Homo sapiens: one gene and its partners. The protein of the gene in region 4 interacts with the protein of the main gene of each other region in a biochemical or structural test. Each region holds a gene or a part of one and is shown on either strand. Other genes may lie near its edges. The genes, in order: POLI, TLK1, YAP1, JOSD2, SMAD4 and CGAS.

What was found.
Region 1: the proteins of JOSD2 (region 4) and POLI form a complex in vitro, tested with the Homo sapiens proteins (one large-scale study listed by BioGRID).
Region 2: the proteins of JOSD2 (region 4) and TLK1 form a complex in vitro, tested with the Homo sapiens proteins (one large-scale study listed by BioGRID).
Region 3: of the proteins of JOSD2 (region 4) and YAP1, one has a biochemical effect on the other in vitro, tested with the Homo sapiens proteins (2 studies listed by BioGRID).
Region 5: of the proteins of JOSD2 (region 4) and SMAD4, one has a biochemical effect on the other in vitro, tested with the Homo sapiens proteins (one study listed by BioGRID).
Region 6: the proteins of JOSD2 (region 4) and CGAS form a complex in vitro, tested with the Homo sapiens proteins (one study listed by BioGRID).

What each region holds. Positions count from the first base shown.
Region 1 is NC_000018.10:54,296,126-54,298,734, reverse strand, and holds the end of POLI (DNA polymerase iota isoform a (long)), read right to left. Parts: 3' UTR 501-2,609; downstream 1-500. UniProt on the Homo sapiens protein: Error-prone DNA polymerase specifically involved in DNA repair. Plays an important role in translesion synthesis, where the normal high-fidelity DNA polymerases cannot proceed and DNA synthesis stalls. Favors Hoogsteen base-pairing in the active site.
Region 2 is NC_000002.12:171,049,394-171,052,893, reverse strand, and holds part of TLK1 (serine/threonine-protein kinase tousled-like 1), read left to right. Parts: intron 1-2,719; coding exon 2,720-2,830; intron 2,831-2,943; coding exon 2,944-3,080; intron 3,081-3,500. UniProt on the Homo sapiens protein: Rapidly and transiently inhibited by phosphorylation following the generation of DNA double-stranded breaks during S-phase. This is cell cycle checkpoint and ATM-pathway dependent and appears to regulate processes involved in chromatin assembly.
Region 3 is NC_000011.10:102,113,447-102,116,946, reverse strand, and holds part of YAP1 (transcriptional coactivator YAP1), read right to left. Parts: intron 2,804-3,500; coding exon 2,553-2,803; intron 1-2,552. UniProt on the Homo sapiens protein: Transcriptional regulator with dual roles as a coactivator and corepressor. Critical downstream regulatory target in the Hippo signaling pathway, crucial for organ size control and tumor suppression by restricting proliferation and promoting apoptosis.
Region 4 is NC_000019.10:50,505,498-50,508,191, forward strand, and holds the end of JOSD2 (josephin-2), read right to left. Parts: intron 2,203-2,694; coding exon 2,077-2,202; intron 1,076-2,076; coding exon 881-1,075; intron 776-880; coding exon 676-775; 3' UTR 501-675; downstream 1-500. UniProt on the Homo sapiens protein: Cleaves 'Lys-63'-linked poly-ubiquitin chains, and with lesser efficiency 'Lys-48'-linked poly-ubiquitin chains (in vitro). May act as a deubiquitinating enzyme.
Region 5 is NC_000018.10:51,057,713-51,061,212, forward strand, and holds part of SMAD4 (mothers against decapentaplegic homolog 4), read left to right. Parts: intron 1-412; coding exon 413-532; intron 533-627; coding exon 628-744; intron 745-2,153; coding exon 2,154-2,204; intron 2,205-3,500. UniProt on the Homo sapiens protein: In muscle physiology, plays a central role in the balance between atrophy and hypertrophy. When recruited by MSTN, promotes atrophy response via phosphorylated SMAD2/4.
Region 6 is NC_000006.12:73,435,298-73,438,797, reverse strand, and holds part of CGAS (cyclic GMP-AMP synthase), read left to right. Parts: intron 1-3,500. UniProt on the Homo sapiens protein: Nucleotidyltransferase that catalyzes the formation of cyclic GMP-AMP (2',3'-cGAMP) from ATP and GTP and plays a key role in innate immunity.

The DNA of each region.
Region 1 (2,609 bases), on a different chromosome or scaffold from region 4:
TGCCTGTAATCCCAGCTACTCGAGGCTGAGGCAGGAGAATCACTTGAACCCAGGAGATGGAGGTTGCAGTGAGTCAAGATCACACCTTTGCACTCCAACCTGGGCGACAGAGCGAGACCCCATCTCAAAAAAAAAAAAAAAAAAAAGATTCTGTAGTATAATTGGTCTGGTCTTCGTTCAGGGTTCCTGGACACCAAGCTCCTAAAACCCATGGAATTTCCTAAACAACAGAAGTGCCTTCATTATTCATGGTAAGCCCTGACACTGTATGCTAATGATGTGACCCACAGTGGGCCCTAGACAGCTAATGCTAAAAAGATGATTTAGGATGGAGGTAGCTCACTTCAAAAAAACAACCATGATTAGGGTGTTGAGACTTTGAGCCAGCCTGATGTCCAGACAGAGGAGGGAAACTGGAGATTAAGTTCAAGCACACAGTAAAGGTTTTAATAAATCATGCCTACGTAATGAAACCCCAAAGAAAACTCTGGACTTCTTGATTACTTGATATGTTTTATTTCTTGACTTGGACAGTTACATAGTTGTTACAATTACTCATTAACATGTTCATTTATGTTTATGTACCTTTCTATATACAGATTTTAAAATAGAAGTTTTTTTAATATTGAAAACAATCCAGATTTGATGGAAGACACAAATCTGCAGATTCATAATGAACCTAAATCCATGATAAATCTATAGCTAGACATATAATAAAAACTGCGTATCTCCAAAGTAAAAGATATTATCTTAGAACAGCTCAAGAGATGTCAGTTCTAAATCTACAGCTCTAAGGACATAATTTCAGAAGGTATAAAGAATTCTACCTAGAAGGAACATCTGACACACAAGAAAAAAGGTAAGCCCCCACCATGTCCCATCAAAAAAATAAACATTGACTATATAAAATACTAATAATATCCAATTTGGAGATTTAATAAAGAACTTGTGGAATTTAATTAGAATTAATGTTATTTCAATACCTTTGTGTTGTTTGGAAAGAGGGTAGCATTTTTAGATGTTTAAGGATAATCAAAAGGACTTGTAACATTCACATTCCAAATCAGTAAAGGGAAAATATATGATTAAATAGAAAACCCAACTGATCCCAAAAGATAGGAGGAGAGATAAAGGTGGGAAAGAAGCACAACATAGAAAAAGAAATATATTAAAAAATAAGATGGCAAAAAATAAATCCAAATAAATTTGTACTTTGGCACTACAGTGGAATAGATACTTTTTAGAGTTCTCCTAGTACAAAACACTAGATCTTGGAGAAAAGAGACCTCTTAATTCATTGCTGGTTTGTACCATATAAGGGAAATCTCCAGGCCTACACTCAAGACAGAAACCCCCTCTACACTATACACTCAAGAGAGAAACAGAAAAAATAAAAATAAAAATACCCTCTACATTCAAGACAGAAACAGGAAAAAAAAAAAACAACAACAAACTCGAGCTGAAACAAAAGCAAGAAAGCAGCAGAAAGCATCAAGCAAGAAGCAAGCTTGAAAGATGGGGTTTATCCCTGGAGGCAGATAGCTAACAGCATCTGCCTGTTAGTTTGGAATTGACCTGCAGAGACAAAACCTTCGGCTAGTAGTAAGGGTCAGGGAGCTTACACTTAAGACAAGGCATTCAATCAGGATCCACAAAGGTGAATAGAGTATGCCAAGGAGTTTGTACCACCTCACCCAGAGAAGCAACGAACTCAAATCATACTGAAGGAAAACATACACAATTTAGGCCCTCTGTCTTCTCGCAGATTAACACATACTCAAGGAAATAAGTCACAATGATATGCAATAATAACCTTAAATGTAGACTTATAAAGACTTAAAATATTGAAATTATCAAAAATATCATATATTTGACTTTTAAAAATTAGAAACAGACTTACAAGGGACTGTAATGAGTAAACGGGAAGTTAAAAAGAATCAAATGAAAAATATATTTATTGAAATTAAAACCATCATTGTTTTAAATAGCAGGTGAGATGCTACTGAAAAATGAACTAGTAAACAGAAAGATAGAGCTGATGAAATTACCCAAAATGCAGTAAAGAGAAACAAGAGGATGAAAAATATGAGAAATTAAGAGACATGAAGGATACAGTAAGAAAGTCTATCATTTGTATACAGTCCTAGAATAGAGAAGAAATATTTGAAGAGCTAGTGGTTGAGAATTTTACAGAACATGAATTAAAAGATACAGGAAGAAGCCAGTATATACTAAGAATAAAAATAAATTCGCACTTCCAAATAATACAGTAAACCTGCAAAGCACCAAAGAAAAAAGAGATAATCTTAAAAACAGAGAAAAAAGATCCCATAAAAAAGTTGATTCTGAGGCCCAAAGATGTTGAGACTAACTTAAAACCACAAAATAAGTAGCGTAACTGTGACATAGCCCGTACATTCTCAATCTATGAAATGTATTTTTAACTATTTTGCTTTCTCTTTTTAAGCTGGCCAAAACCATTTACTTTGTTTTCTTAGCCATTTTTTCTTAAGCCCCTTCTAGCTGTCCAAGGTCCTGAAATCATTACAAGGACTATAAAATGTTTTAATGATTTACAAAAAGTTATATACCCTTTTCATAAGTTTAAT
Region 2 (3,500 bases), on a different chromosome or scaffold from region 4:
TTTAATTTAAGACAGCATTGAGAACTACTGGTGTAGAAACTCGATAAAACCAACACCTGTGATCCTACTGTATTTGACAGTGTCTTTAAAACATCCAGTGTGTCTTTTTCCTGATCCTGTCATATTTACTTTCTCACACCCATTTACCATTTAACCACTATTTTAAATTTTGTATTTGTGATGCCTTGGTGTTTCTTTATGGTTGTATTAAATATGTGCTTACATTCTTCACAACATATTATTTCAGTTGGTTTTTGAACGTTAAGTGAAATTTTCCAGTATGGACCCTTTTGCCCAGCTTGTTTTCAATGAAATATATCAGAGAGTCATCCACTTTGATGAGTATAACTGTAGTTTGTTCATTTCATTGCAATATTGTAAGGTGTTACAAGTATACCATAATTTCTGTATCTTTTCTGCTTTTAGTTGACATTTTATTTCTACTTTTTCTAGTATAAACAGTTCTAAGAACATTCTTTGTACATGTCTTCAGGGCACATATGAAAGAATTTTTCTGTGGTATATGTTTAGGAAAGACATAGCCAGAGTACAGGGCATACGCATTTTCCATTTTACTGTATAATACCAGTTATTTCTCAAGGTTTTTTGGTCTGGTCTTTTTTTTCCCCCGCTAAGTGACAGGGTCTCACTGTGTCGCCCAGGCTAGAGCACAGTGGGGGATCATAGCTCACTGTAGCCTCAAACTCCCGGGTTTAAGCAATATTTCTACCTCAGGCTCCCAAGTAGCTAGGACTACAGGCTCATGCCATCACTCCGGGCTGATTTTTTTTTATTTTGTAGAGCTGGGAGTCTACAGGCTGGTATTGAACTCCTGGCCTCAAGTGATCCTCCCACCTTGGTCTCCCAAAGTGCTGGGGCTATAGGCATGAGCCACCATGCCCAGCTGATCTTTCAATATAAATTATTAGTCTTACTGAAATTGGTTTTGGGTATGGCATGATGTAGGGTTTCATTTCAATTTCTTTCTATATGGATAACCAGTTGTTCATCCCCATTTAATTAAAAGCTCATTCTTATACTGCCAGCTCTATCATCATAAAATCTTGTTTCCAGTATACAGGTGGATCTGTTTCTGTGTTCTGTATCATGTTTCCTTGTTCTGTTTGTGTCTCTACACAAGTACTGCAGCATCTTTTTATCATTGTTGATAAAACAATTTTTATCAGTTGTTTTTGGCTGTTAGTAACAGTGAACATAAATAACAGTACTTCAGATGAGATAGAAGCTTATTTTTCAAGAGAAGAACAGAAGTGGGCAGCTCAGATATTATTACTCCTCAGTATCATAAGGGACCTTGTCATTGTTAGTTCATGGCTTATATCTCAAAGGTCACATCAAGGTTCAATATATCTATTAGGGTCACAATTATATCTGTGTTCTAAGCAGATAACAGGAGGGAGGATGGGAGCAGAGAACACAAAGCACAATTCTGTGTGCAGCCTTCTTGGATATCTCATTGAACAACTTCTGCTTGCATCTCATTAACCATCCTTCGCTCTAAGGGAAGCTGGGAACTGTAGTCATTTGGCTAGGCAGATAGCAATCCAGGATAAAACATTGAATTTCCATTATTAAGGAAGGAGGAGGCTTGGGTGATCATAGTTATGTAGCTTTATGTTAAGTCATGATACATGGTTAAACAGATATCCTCTTCTTCTTTTTGGCTATTTTTGGCCCTTCACAGTCTTAGAGAAATTTTAGAATCAGGTTTCAAGTTGCATATGCATCATACACACACAGTGTTGAGATTTTGTTTGAATTGCTGAGGGTCTATTGGTGCTAAATTCTGTTTCCTCTTCCTTGAAAAACAACTGTGTTGGGTATCTAATTTTAGGTTGGCAATTCTTTTCTCTCAGCACTTTTAAGATTTTGTGCCCTTGTCTTGTGGATTCCACCATGGTTGGCCTAGACTTTTGATTCTCAAAGTGTGATCTTCAGACCAGGAGCATCAGTATTACTGGAGAACTTATTAGAAACGGAAATTTTCAGGTCCTTCCTGAGACCTGATTCAGAAGCTCTGGGAATGGTTCCCAGTAATCTGTTGTAACAAGCCCTATAGGTTATTCTCTTGCCACTGTACTAATCAGACTCATCTTTTGATGTTAGAAGGAAGCCTCTTCTCTGAGCATATGGCCACCTACAAAGTGAACAGAATTAGTATCCTATTGCTAAGGAAGAATGGTGAGGACAGTTGTTGGGTAGGCAACTTGTGTATGTCATTTATAAGTTCAGTGGAGAAAATATTTTGTTAGTTATAAGAGATAGAGGAAAACCCACATTTAATTTGTTAATTATAAGAGATAGAGGAAAACTCACATTTATTTTTAAGTGATAGACACTTTATATACCATATTTTAGTTATTTTTAACAAAGTGAGGTAGATTGTGTTGCTTCTATTTAGAAATAAGAAAGCTGAACTAAAGTTCTTATAACTTAGCCAAAGTTAACCTTAGAGTATGGATTTGAATGTATGGATATGGATACAAATTTCCCTGTATGTACTTTCCACTACACACTTAAGTAACATTTAACAGTATTATCTCATGGTTAAGTAGGCTTTTTTTTTTTCTCGTATCATACTCAGATATTTAATATTATTAGTCCTATCTGTATATAATTTATTTAGAACATTAAAACTATTTCTAAGCTTTTCATATTCCCCAGTCTAGACCTCTTGCATTTTCTACTTATGTCATAGGCTAACTGTGATCTCAGACGGCAAATAGATGAACAACAAAAATTACTTGAAAAATACAAAGAACGATTAAATAAGTGCATATCAATGAGCAAGAAACTTCTTATTGAAAAGGTAGGCTAAAAGTTGAGTAAATTTTCGCTTTCCCTTCATTAGCCCCTTTTGCTTTGTATGCTTTTATAAATTAATGAATACAATTGAGTGATGATTTTTTTTCTCCTTTTCAGAGTACACAAGAAAAGCTGTCAAGCAGAGAGAAGAGTATGCAAGATCGATTACGCCTCGGGCACTTTACAACAGTTAGACATGGCGCTTCATTTACTGAACAATGGACAGATGGTTTTGCATTTCAGAATCTTGTGAAGTTAGTCATTCTTAACATTTAAAAGTTTTTAGTATTCGTTTGGGTTTTCATTACTTTAAAAGATTATAGATTTGTAATTATGCTCTCCAGTTCCTCGCTACTCTGAAATCATAGAATTTAGTACCTTTGAAAGGGATATGAAACCAAGAGTATTACAGTTTTAGCTTAGTAATTTCTTGATTAATTAGCAGTCATCTATAGAATGTAATATATTATTCTAATTCTGACTTTCCGAGATATTAATTGAACCTTTAGCTTTACAGATGATGTTTTGAGAGGGAAATTGTTGAAAATTTAATTTTCACTGGAAGATTTGTGTGTGTGTTTATTTCCTAGGATTTTCCTACTTAGTTTTTTCCCATTCCCCAATCCTTACATGTTAATGTTCAGCACTTGCCTGCTCTCTATTCCTAAGGGAAA
Region 3 (3,500 bases), on a different chromosome or scaffold from region 4:
CCCACAGCATTCTTCTCCCACATCCAATGTTTAGGGGCCTCCATAGAATCCCTGACAGATACCAAGTAACCATGATTTTACCTACATTTATTGAGCAAGATTTACCTGTCCAGGAAAACTCTTCTAGTTCTTAAAAGTTTTATATAAGAAAATTCTTCCATGGAATCAAAATTCCTCACATTTCTTATATAGTAAGACTAATCCTACTCCCACATAAAAGTTCCCCAGAAACACTGAAACAACAATCATGTCTTATCTCTCCTCCTCCCAGTTTTTTCTTTTCCGGGTAAATATCTCTCTACCCTTGCAACCTTTTCTCCTATGACATAATTTGAGATTTATTTATTTTAGCCTGGTTTATCTTCCTTACAGGCCCATAGTTGACAGGGGTGAATTGAGGTGACTGGGGTTGGAAGGTATATACCCTTCATTAATCCATCTACATATATCAATACCTTTAAGAGAAACATTTCTTCACAAAGGAAGAATCACTGGAAACTTTGAAAAATGAATAGTCATTCCTTAGCATCTGTGGTCAAGGATTGGTTCCAGGACCTCCTACATGTACTAAAATCCACAGAGGCTCTGGTCTTTCATATAAGGTGGCATAATATTTGCATATAACCTATACATATTCTCCCATATACTTTATATCACCTCTAGATTACTTATAATACTTAATACAACGTAAAGGCTAAATAGTTGTTACATTATTTAGGAAATAATGACAAGGAAAAAAGTTTGTACATTAGTCAATACAGATGTAATTTGTTTCCAAATATTTTCAATCAGAGGTTGGTTGAATCCATGAATGCTGAACCCACAGATACGGAAGGCCAACTGTATCTAGAATACTGATTTCAGCTCAAAAAAAGATCATTCATTCAAAATAATGAAATCGTAGGCAGGTATCACCTACAAGCAATTATTACAAGATACAAAGAACTAAGAAGAAGAGCATAAATGTTGCTCTTTAACCTTATACTTTTAGCCACAGCATCAACCAAAGAAAGAAGGAAAGCAGGCTATTAAGCTGTTTAACAATCTCCCCAGGTCAGCATGTGACCCAGCAGGGAGAGGTTCAAAAAAGTGCAGCCTTTCTTTTTCTTCCTAACAACCTGGTTTGTTTCCACTCCCTTCCCCTTCAAGACACATCCTTCACAGCTAGCAGCTCTTTCAATCATTTACTTTGGATGTCTGCTTGAGAACAAATGATCTTGCTCATGCAGATGAGTTTGCCAGACTTGTGTGTACTTTCCAGTCTCAGGCCCTTTACTGTTCTGGTTGAAACCTGATCCTTTGAAATGGATACCAGGACACCAGAAAATGAATTTTTTTAAAAAAAAAGAAGAAAAGAAAAGAAAAAGTTGCAGGAAAGGGGGCAAAAAAAAACTGTACGAACTTTTCATGATCAAACCTTTTCCTTTGCTCTTCTGTAAGTCTGTCACAAAACTTTCTATCTTACATTACAAAGTAGCAACCCACCCTGGAAGACAATCAATATAAAACACATACTAGGATTCACACAACAAAACATCCTTAATGGTGTTATCTGGTATGATAAATAAATGTTACATTTGCCTTAGGAGTAGACTGTCAAGACCTATCCGAATCAAAACTTACACTGTTTTTCACTTTATTATCTCAACCTGATTAAACACTATTAAGTGAGCTTTTTTAAAGACATCAATTTCAGTCTATCATAATTAGTTTTAGTCAACATTTCAATATATACTTGATCCAAACAAGCCAGAAAAAAATTGAGGTCTTATCTGTAATTTCAAAATCAGAGGAGAGAAAATTCTATTTATGTCTTTTCAGCCTAGTGTAATTCTGCCATTTTATTAAACACAAAAGGACTGAAAAAATAAAAATAAATAAACAACCCAACGGTCATGTTTTTGTTTTCCCAGAGAGGAGGGTTTCTGTTGTGAAGACCTACTAGCTTGAAAGAAGTTTGCCACTGAGCGACTGCATATGAAACCTAAAAATTTTTATTTCCCTTTACATTTTTGGGGGGAAATATTGGTAAGTCACATCAAGCTTCAGTTGTAGTGCTTGTCATTTCACAATTTAAAATACTGTAAAATTAGACTCCCCCAAAAGCCCTACTTATTTTGTAGTTCTCTACCAATAAAATATTTATTTAAAAAGATACAAGTAGCACCATACGTATTTTGTAAGACGCTGCTAGCCCTGTAATTCCCAGAATTTGAAAATTTTCATGGTATTCTTTCTGTTTTGTGCTAGGCTAATTAAAAGGTTTGGCACAAGCTCAAAATGAGAATAACCAAACTTCCACAAAAGAAAAGATTATAAAGAGGCTCAGAACCAAGACTCAGTAAAGCTTTCAAAATATTACCCATACTAACAAAGGTATTTAGGTCATACCAAACTGAAACATATATATGGAAGATAGAGCTACAGAGCTTAACATAAATATTAAATAAAACATAAAAATAAATGATATTCTGTATCTTGACACCACTTTACTGTGTTTTCCAATACATATTTGTCTTAGATAACTGTCTCCCACCATTATTTTCACTTACTTTAAGAAGTATCTCTGACCAGAAGATGTCTTTGCCATCTCCCAACCTGCTGGCAGAGGTACATCATCAGGTATCTCAAAAGAAGACTGTCGAAGATGCTGAGCTGTGGGTGTAGCTGCTGGGCCAGAGACTACTCCAGTGGGGGTCAGTGTCCCAGGAGAAACAGCTCCCAACTGCAGAGAAGCTGGAGAGGAATGAGCTCGAACATGCTGTGGAGTCAGGGCTCCTGCAGTGCCTGCATCAGTACTGGCCTATTAGGGAATATTAAGATGAAAAATTAAAAAAGAAAAAACACAACTGAGTCCCTTTAAATTTCCCAGTCAGCGCTTAATTGCAGCCGAATATCTAAGTACCAAAGGAAAATTTCAACATTTAATATTCGACACTGGAGAACACAGGTTTTCAAATGGATACTTTTAATATTATATAATTTTAATATAAATTTTATAAATGTTTGTAATTGTATTGATGAGCAGTCCATCTAATGAATTTCCCCTGGTCCACACTAGACATGTAAGGGCAACTAGTACTGAATGAATAAAACATTCCAAAAATAATAGTGAATTTTAAAACCTAATTTTTAAGAGGTCAGTGCAGTTATGGGTGCTTTTCCAAGTTCTAAAATGTTCTAAGTATAAACACAACACAAAGAATATGTATTTTTTACTAGGTTTTAAGTAATTAATTTTTTTTCTAGGTCAAACTCAAGAAAAATCAAGCCCTCGTCATTTATTCCAACCATGATAAAATGCCATCAATAAAGAAATCATAACAAATTACACAAATTTTAATGAGAGCAACAAATTTGAACTGCCCAAATGTTCTTAAAAGCCATCTACAATGAACAGGATGAAAAAAACCCAACTATATCTTTGTATGTAGAAGATAAAGATGTTATCAGTCCAATTTTAACTTAAGAACTCACACACATCCACAACTCTATACAAG
Region 4 (2,694 bases):
AAAATTTAAAGAAAGTAGTCAGGTATGGTGGCATGCACCCGTGGTCCCAGCTACTTGGGAGGCTGAGGTGGGAGGGTCGCTTGAGCCCAGGAGTTCAAGGCTACAGTGAGCTGTGATTGACCCACTGCACTCCAGCCTGGGTGACAGAGTGAGACCCCTGTCTCAATCAATCAATCAAATAAAGAAGTAAACACCTGCTTTCTCCTTAGCAATGACCCCCGTGGAACCCAGGAGATCAAACTCATTTGTTTGCCACTGGTCTCTCTCCAGCACCGGAGGAGCGTGAGCCCCAGGGGGCACGGACTTGTGTTTTTTTCTGCTGTGTCACTGATGAGGAAACTGAGGCCCAGCAGTGAGAAACTGGCATGAGGTGGCAGAGAACCAGGAGGCCTCCTGGGCTCTCGGCCCCACACACCAGGGTGTCTGGCCTGTAAGGTAAGTGGGAGTCACTGAGTGGAAGGGGCCCCAGAAGGGTGGGGCCGTCAGACACAGGCCAGGCAGGCAGCAAATCAGCAGATTTATTGAGGCAGCAGCGGCAGTGGGGAGCAGGGGTGTGGGGAGGGGGCGGGGCCTCCCCAGGGTCCATGAAGTGCTGGCCTTTCCCAGGCATGCAGTGTGCGCAGCCGGAGGGGGATGCGCAGGGACTGCGCTGTGGGCGCCGATGGTCAGCCATGGTCAGTCTGTCCGCAGCCAGCTGCCCTTCTCCTCCACCTCCTTGGTCACTACCAGCAGCACCTCGCACAGGCCCTGGGCCAGCGCAGCCGCCAGGAAGGCCCTGGGTGGGAGAAATGGGGAGACTGAGGCTCGGCCAGCCTGGGCATTCCGTCTGGGGAGTGGGGTTTCAGGCCCCTGGTCTTGGAATCGCCTCTGTGGGGCTCACCTGACTCCGTCCTCATCCCCCAGGGCCTCGGGCGCCCGCAGCTTGGAGTCCAGGTTGTAGTAGACACCGTCCACCTGGCGCAGGGCCACCCAGTGCCGCCGGCGCAGCGGCAGTGACAGCAGCCCCAGCGACACGGGCGAGGGCAGGTTCAGGATCAGCCCCAGTACCTGGGGCAGGGCCAGCTGGGACAGGGGCCTGTGTGGGCAGGGAGGGGACACTGCCATCAGGGCCTGCTCCGCCCGCCGGTGAAATGTTGCTGAACATGTGGGGCCCAGGCTGGTGGTGGTGAGGGCCTCCTGAGCCCACCCAGAGGTGTTCCTTAATCAGCCACCCTGGTTCCCGACACTCATCCGTTCACCTGCCCACTCAAACCTCCCACCCATGCGGCCACCCAACCAGACCTCCCACCCACCCACCCACCGTCCACCCACCCACCCACCGTCCACCCAACTCACATCGGCCCTTCACCAACCACCATCACCCTGTCTGTCCAGCCACCCACCCACCAACTTACCAACTCCTCACACAGCCACCCAGGATCCATGCATGATCCGCCCACCCCACTGAGCCTCCCAGCCACCAGCCAACTTCCCAATGACGATTCACACACTCACCTCCCATCTATGCATTCACTTCCATCCCTCATATACACCCGCCCCACCTCCCCGTCAACCACCCAACCACCATCACCATCCAACTAGCCATCTACTGTTCACCACCCACCACCCACCCACCCACCCACACAGCCGGCCACCACCCAGCCAGCCATTCACCCAACAGTGGACTCGCCATGCCCCCAATCCTCACTCACTCTTGACCCCCCTGCCATTGGTCTACCCCTCATCCACCAGCCACATGCCCAGCCACTGGCCAGCCGGCCATCAAAACTTCCCATTCATCCACCCAACTCCCCAGCCTCCTGTCTGCTGCCCATTGCCCAGGAACACCCATCACTTCACTCCCCCTGACCCAACACATCCAACGGCCTACTCAGCATTCACCCAGTAACCATCATCCACCCAGCATCTCAGCCCATCGACCACCTGATCTCCCCCTTTCAACCCATCAGTGCCAGGCTTCCCACATTCATGCCAACCTCCCCCAGCCACATTCCCCTCCCTGCCCCCCAACAGGCTCACACTATAGGGTGCCCTCTGTGCCCGGCCCAGCACATGCTGTGCTGCTCTGGGGCCTACCTCCTCCTGTCCCACCACACGGCGGCCAGGCCCAGCCCCTGCAGAGCGGCCATGATCACATTGACATCATAGTTGCCGGTGCCCAGGAGGCTGCGATGAGGGTTCAGCCGGGAGTCTGGGGCCAACCTGGTAGTGGGGGTGGCCAGAGCTGAGGTGGGGACCCCTGGAAAGGCCTCCCCACAAAATGGGGGTCCCAGGGGCCACAAGTTGCCTCAGCCTTTGACTCTCCCCGCTTCAGACCCCACAACTCATCCACCCCCAAGTCCTGCCTCTCCTGCCCCAATTCTGCCCTGTCCCCAAGTCCTGTCTCTCCTGCCCTGACTCTGCCCTGTCCCCAAGTCCTGCCTCTCCTGCCCCGACTCTGCCCTGTCCCCAAGTCCTGCCTCTCCTGCCCCAACTCTGCCCTGTCCCCAAGTCCTGTCTCTCCTGCCCTGACTCTGCCCTGTCCCCAAGTCCTGTCTCTCCTGCCCTGACTCTGCCCTGTCCCCAAGGCCCCAGATGGGCTCTGTCTTCTCCCGCAGCCTCCAGCCTCCCTCCAGTCCATTCCCACACGGCCCTGGCCCTCTCCTGCTCTCAGCTCTCCCATGGCTCCCCAATGCCTTGGACAAAGTCCCTGTC
Region 5 (3,500 bases), on a different chromosome or scaffold from region 4:
TCAGTTTTCAACATTTTCTTGAGCCTGGATTTTTGGGGTCCTAATCAGAAAGGTCCAGAGAGAGAGGTGGATGGAGTGGCCAGGATGAACTGACATACCTCTGAAGAAGTTAATATGATAGGCCAGACGTACAGTGGTGTTTTGCTGGCATTTGAAATATGTTTGTGAAGAAATAAGCCACTACAATTAGTTAGACATTACCTAAAATGGAATAATTTTGAGCTTCCTCAAGTTAAAGTTTGCCTTTATAGATGACTGTAGGTTTTTTACCTGATAGGCCATGGGTGAGTTACACTTTTTGCCCATCTTTATAGTTGTGCATTATCAGATAAAATTGGTCCTTCATTTAGTATATGAAATCATAAGATGACATCTATGAATGTACCATGTTAATGTCTTCTTGTTCCTCTAGGTCAGCCTGCCAGTATACTGGGGGGCAGCCATAGTGAAGGACTGTTGCAGATAGCATCAGGGCCTCAGCCAGGACAGCAGCAGAATGGATTTACTGGTCAGCCAGCTACTTACCATCATAGTATGTACATACTTTAAAAAATCTTTTAAATAGTTGAGAAAAAAGTAGGCAGCCTTTATAAAAGCAAATTAACCCATGTGGGCCTTAATTTTTAGACAGCACTACCACCTGGACTGGAAGTAGGACTGCACCATACACACCTAATTTGCCTCACCACCAAAACGGCCATCTTCAGCACCACCCGCCTATGCCGCCCCATCCCGGACATTACTGTAAGCTCTTGTTTTTGTTGTAAGGGCTATTTTTTTTTTTTTTTTGGTAGGGCTTTGTTTTCTGTTTTTTAAAAATGTTTTTACATCTTTTATTCATCCTGTGATTTTGTTTCATTAAATAGTGCTTTTCAGTATTTTTTGTAAACAGTATTATTTTTCATAGTTATCCTACCTTTTTATTTTAGAGGAGTGATGTTTGCTAAATACATTTATTTCTCTGTTGCTAATGTTTCATTAACATCACATTGATTTCCATTCATTTGTTTGTTTGCTTTGTATATGTTCTTAGATCTCATCTGTGTCTTGTATATCCACGCATAATGGATTGAAACCCTTTGAGTGCTAAGTTCTCAAGGTTTCCCTCAGCGTAGTATTCAGTGTACTTTGGATAATGTTGAATCTATAGATAACTCTGTGCTGGCATGATTGGGAGGAATACCCTACAGATAACATGTAGTTTCAGGTAGAATAGGAGCATTGTTCATATGGCTTAGTAAAATCGAGAGTATAACTCTTATATACATTAAATCCCTTTCTTCTCATTATAATATTAATAGTACCAAAGAAAACTTAGAAAATATAGAAAAGTATAAATAAGAAAAGCAAAATTACCCTGAATCCTGCTACTCAAAAACAGCCACTTCTAATATTTTGTTATTTTCCTTCCAGTCATATAAACAGGTATATGTAAATTGACAGGGGCTCCTACTCTATGTGTATTGTATATATCTTGCTTCTTTTCAGTTATGTTACTATTTTTTCCATTTCTTAAGAGAATGTAATTTTTAATGGCTGCCTAGGCCGTCATAGTGTTGAAGGGTGCTGGGTTTGGACCTTTAACAGGCTGTGTGACCATTGACAAGTTATTTCACCTCATTAAGCCTCAAGAGTAATAATAGTAGTATCTACCTCAAGGGGTGTTCGTAAGAAGTAAACGTAATAATTTATGTGAGGTGTTTAGCACAGTGTTTTAACACATTACCAGTTTTCAATTATGTTAGCTATGATTCCATTAAATAAACATCCTTAATTAACATAAGCACTTGTTTTTAGAATAGACCTAACAGTTTATTATTATACATTGCATTATAAATTGTACTGTATTGGACGTTACATGAATAATTCATTTATGATCTGTATTAAATGTTGGATATAAAATTATGTGTAAATTGTGTAATAATAGCACTTGGCAGATAGCACTGAAATGTTAGTTATTAAATATCCACAAAAGTATTAATAGTTTAAGACTATTTGCTTATTGTAAACTTTTAAGTTCTTAGACATTGCATAAGCTTGTTTTAAACAATTCCTAACCTATAATAGTTATATTTAAGTAAGATTTACTGAAAGTTTTAGCATTAGACAACTTTTAGTAAATAAAAATGGAATTTTTGTTGTCTTTTCTTTAGGGCCTGTTCACAATGAGCTTGCATTCCAGCCTCCCATTTCCAATCATCCTGGTAAGTGTATTTCAAAATTGATTTCCTGTATTTAGATTGATTTAGTGGTGATTGAAACGCACAAACACAGGCTTTAATGGAATTATGGGGTCACTTCTCAGATGAGTACAATACTCATCATGACATGAGTTAATCAACAGTTTGAGTAGTCAATATAGTCACACATAGACTGTCTATATTTTATTCAGTTTAACTGTCCCCAAAAGAAAAGAACTATCTTTTCAGCTAAAATGAGAATTACAGAAATGCTGACTTCAGCATTGAATACATAAATATGCAGCAGAATAAAACTAGGTTTCAAAATAGAACAGCTGTAAAACTATAGCTTAAAAAGCCAGGAAAGAATCTTAAGTACATGCCGAAAAGAAAAATAATTCACTCTATTCAGGATCTCTGGTTAACTGGAATTTAGAAACTATTTGATTAAATTGTATGCAAAAGAGTAAATCGCTAAGTAGCTTTCTTCAGTTCAAAGTTTGTGTATAATTTTTGAAACTGTAGAGGTAATAAAACAGAAAACACTTGAAAATAAAATACTGAAAGTCCCTTGTAACACAAACATAGATTTTGAATTTTTTTCTCATCCTTTCGTATCTGTTTTTCTTAGCATAAAAAGATGCAAATATATTACTTCAGCTAATCACCTTAATTTTTTGGAAACTATAAACTCAATTTTCCTCCTAATTAAAAGAAAATTATGAAGAATTATATTTTTATTTTTACTTGTTTATTTTTGAGAGAGGGCCTGGCTCTGTTGCCCAAACTGGAGTGCAGTGGCATGATCTCAGATTACTACAGCCTTGACCTCCTAGTCTCAAGCGATCCTCTCACCTCAGCTTCTAGAGTAGCTGGGACTATAGGCAAGGGCCACCATGCCTGGCTAATGTTTGTATTTTAGTAGATAACAGGGTCTCACCATGTTGCCCAGGCTGGTCTCGAACTCCTGGGCTAAAGCAGTCCTCCTGCTAATAATTTTATTTATTTATTTATTTATTTATTTTTTTCCGAGATGGGATCTCGCTATGTTGTCCAGGCTGGTTTCGAACTCCTAGCCTCAAGTGATCCTCCTGTCTTAGCCTCCCAAAGTGCTGGGATTATAGACGTGAGCCACCACACCAAGCTTGAAAAATTAAAAAAATATATTTTTAAATGATTTTATTTTTGATCTTTGTGGGTACATAGGAGATGTATATATTTATGGGGCACATGAGATGTTTTGATACAGGCATATAATGCATGATAATCACATCATGGAAGATGGGGTATACATCCCTTCAAGCATTTATCTTTTGTGTT
Region 6 (3,500 bases), on a different chromosome or scaffold from region 4:
TCCTGAGGAACACTGGAAGGTAAATCACCTTAGAGATGAAGAAGAGTCCTTTGGTGGCCCTGTGGCCTATGTGGTTAGGCAGTTCTTTTTTTTTTTTTTTTTTGAGACGGATTCTTGCTTTGTTGCCCAGGCTGGAGTGCAGTGGTGTGAACTTGGCTCACTGCAACCTCTGCCTCCTGGCTCAAGCGATTCTCCTGCCTCAGCCTCATGAGTAGCTGGGACTACAGGCGCATGCCACCACGCGAGGCTAATTTTTGTATTTTTAGTAGAGACAGGGTTTCATTATGTTGGCCAGGATGGTCTCCATCTCTTGACCTCGTGATCCACCCGCCTCAGCCTCCCAAAGTGCTGGGATTACAGGCGTGAGCCACTGCATCTAGCCATGGTTAGGGAGTTCTTTTCATTCTTCCATTAAAATGAAAGAAAGTGAAGGCTGGTGCTGGATGCTTAGCTTCACCTCTGCTTTCTGTTACCCTTGGCTGTTCTGCATCTGCCATCATTCCAGATTATGTATAATTAGACAAAACTCTGCTTCTGTGTATGTGTGTGAGTGTATGTGAACAGAGGGACTTAACAGTGAAAATACTTGTACTAGATTGGAGACACTTATAACACCTGCTATATCTTTTCTTTCTCTAAACATTCTACTAGAAATTCCCTGGTCTCACAAGCTATATTTTTAAAAATATTATGTTTTTGTTTTTATTTATTTTTATTTGTTTATTTTTTGAGACAGAGTCTCGCTGTGTCGCCCAGGCTGGAGTGCAGTGGTGCAATCTTGGCTCACTGCAACCTCCACCTCCTGGGTTCAAAAGATTCTCCCACTTCAGCATCTCGAGTAGCTGGGACTACAGGTGCGTGCCACCATGCCCAGCTAATTTTTTGTATTTTTAGTAGAGACTGGGTTTCACCATATTGGCCAGGCTGATCTCGAACTCCCAACTTCAGGTGATCCACCCATCTCCATCTCCCAAAGATTACAGGCATGAGCCACTGTGCCTGGCCTTGTTTTTATTGATTTTTGATTAAAAATTTTAAATTTTAAAAATTTACCTGTTGCAAAATAATACTAGTTTTATTACCAAGGATATAATTTATTTAAAGAACAGTTTATGATTTACTTGCAGTTTTTTTGTTCTTAAGATAAAAGGACAGTCAAAATATGAGGTTTTTAACCCACTCAAAAAAATGTTCAGCCAGGCGCAGTGGCCCATGCCTATAGTCTCAGCTACTCAGGAAGTTGAGGCGGGAGGATTGCTTGAGCCCAGGGGTTCAGGGCTGTAGTGAGCTATGATCATGCCACTGCACTCCATCCTGGGTAACATAGCAAGAAGTCCTCTATACCCCGCCTGCCAAAAAAAAAGTCTCTGGACAGTTTAACTCAACATAGGTAAATTAACTTGTTTCATTATGTTATCTGTTTTTAGATACTGGTTTTTAAATTTTGATTTAATTCGTTTCATAAATTTATAAAGCATATACGTGGTTCCAAAGTCAAAGCTATGGAAAAAGGTACAGTTAGAGAAACATCTTCTGTTCATGTCCTCTCCACACTCTTCTCTCCTTCCCTGATTAGAAACCTTTTTAATTGTTTTTAGTTTACCCTTCCATGTTTTATTTTTTATTTTATTTATTTATTTATTTTTGAGACAGAGTCTCGCTCTGTTGCCCAGGCTGGAGCGCAGTGGGGCAATCTTGGCTCACTGCAGCCTTCGCCTCCCAGGTTCAAGTGATTCTCCTGCCTCAGCCTCCAGGAGTAGATGGGATTACAGGTGTGTGCCACCACGCCTGGCTAATTTTTGTGTTTTTAGTAGAGATGAGGTTTCACCACGCTGGCCAGGCTGCTCTTGAACTCCCAACCTCAGGTGGTCCACCCACCTTGGCCTCCCAAAGTACTGGGATTACAGGCGTGAGCCACCGTGCCTGGCCTTCCGTGTTTTAAAAGTGTAAGTAAATATATTCTCTCTCTCTCTCTCTCATTCATGTAATGGCTCAAACCTATAATCCAGTACTTTGGGAGGCTGAAGTGGGTGGATCATTTGAGCTCAGGAGTTCGAGACCAGCGTGGGCAACATGGTGAAAGCCTGTCTCTACTAAAAATACAAAAATTAGCCAGGTGTGGTGGTGCAAGCCTGTAGTCCCAACTATTCAAGAGGCTGATGTCAGGGGATCACTTGAGCCCTGGAGGTTGAGGCTGCAGTGAGCCAAGATGGTGCCACTGCACTCTAGCCTGGGTAACAGAGTGAGACCCTGTCTCAAAAACAAAGAAAAAGGTGTCCCTTTTATTTTAAAAAGGGGATGGCATATAAATGTGTATATAGTATATAATATAAATTATATACAATGTTTTATATTATATGACATATTACATATAAATTATACATAATATATTACATGTAAATACTTATGTAAATATATTCATATAAATACTTATATTTAATATATATTTTTAAGATAAAGAAGTCAGGTAAAAACTAAGGAAATCTGGATAAAGTATAGACTTTAGTTAACAATAATGTATCAATATTGGTTTATTGTACCAATGTATTTTATGAATATGGGATGTTAATAATAGGGAAATGGGGGTGCAGTGGCATGTGCTTATAGTCCTAGTTTCCTCAGCCTTCGGGAGGCTGAGGCAGGAGGATCATTGAGCCCAGGAGTTAGGGTTGTTCTTCTTGGAGCTGAACTCCTGGGTTCAAGTGATCCTCCCGTCTCAGTCTCCCACCTCCCAAGTAGCTGAGATTACAGGTGCACGACACTGTAATCAGTGGACATGTTTTCAAGTGGGTTTAAAACTTGGTATTTTGACTGTCCTTTTATCTTAAGGACAAAAAACTGCAAAAAAATTATAAGCTGTTTTTTATAAGTGTATTATTGGTAATAATACTGGTATTACTTTGAAAAAGGTAGATTGAACATAAATATTAGATAATATAGTAATTTATATACATACAAAATATATTTGTATGCTACCCCCTTTTTAAATAAAAGGTACACTTTTTTTTTTTTTTTTTTTAAAGTAGACACAGGGTCTTGCTATGTTGCCCAGGCTGGTCTCAAACTCCTGGCCTAAAGCAGTCCTCCCACTTTGGCCTCCTAAAGTGCTGGGATTATAGGCATGAGCCATCATGGCCAGGACATATGTTTTTCTTTTTAATTTTATTAATTTGGTTTATTTTTTAATTTTATAGACGCCCTGCTCTCAGATATAACACTTTTTTTCTTTTAATTTAACAAGATATTTTCGATCTCACTCCATACCTCTATATAGAGAAAACACCCATTCCTTTTTAAAGTCTATTTTTACAGCTGGTCAAAGAGTAAATCGTTATGTAATATTGCTAGGCATTTCCCAGATCTCCATAGGCATCATTCCAATTTGCTTTTCCACAGCAATGTATCAGAGTACCTGTTTCACTCTCAACCTCACTGACTTGTTAAACTTTTTGCCAATTGAAATTCTTGCCAGTGAGAAAATGATATCTCAAAAAGTAAGA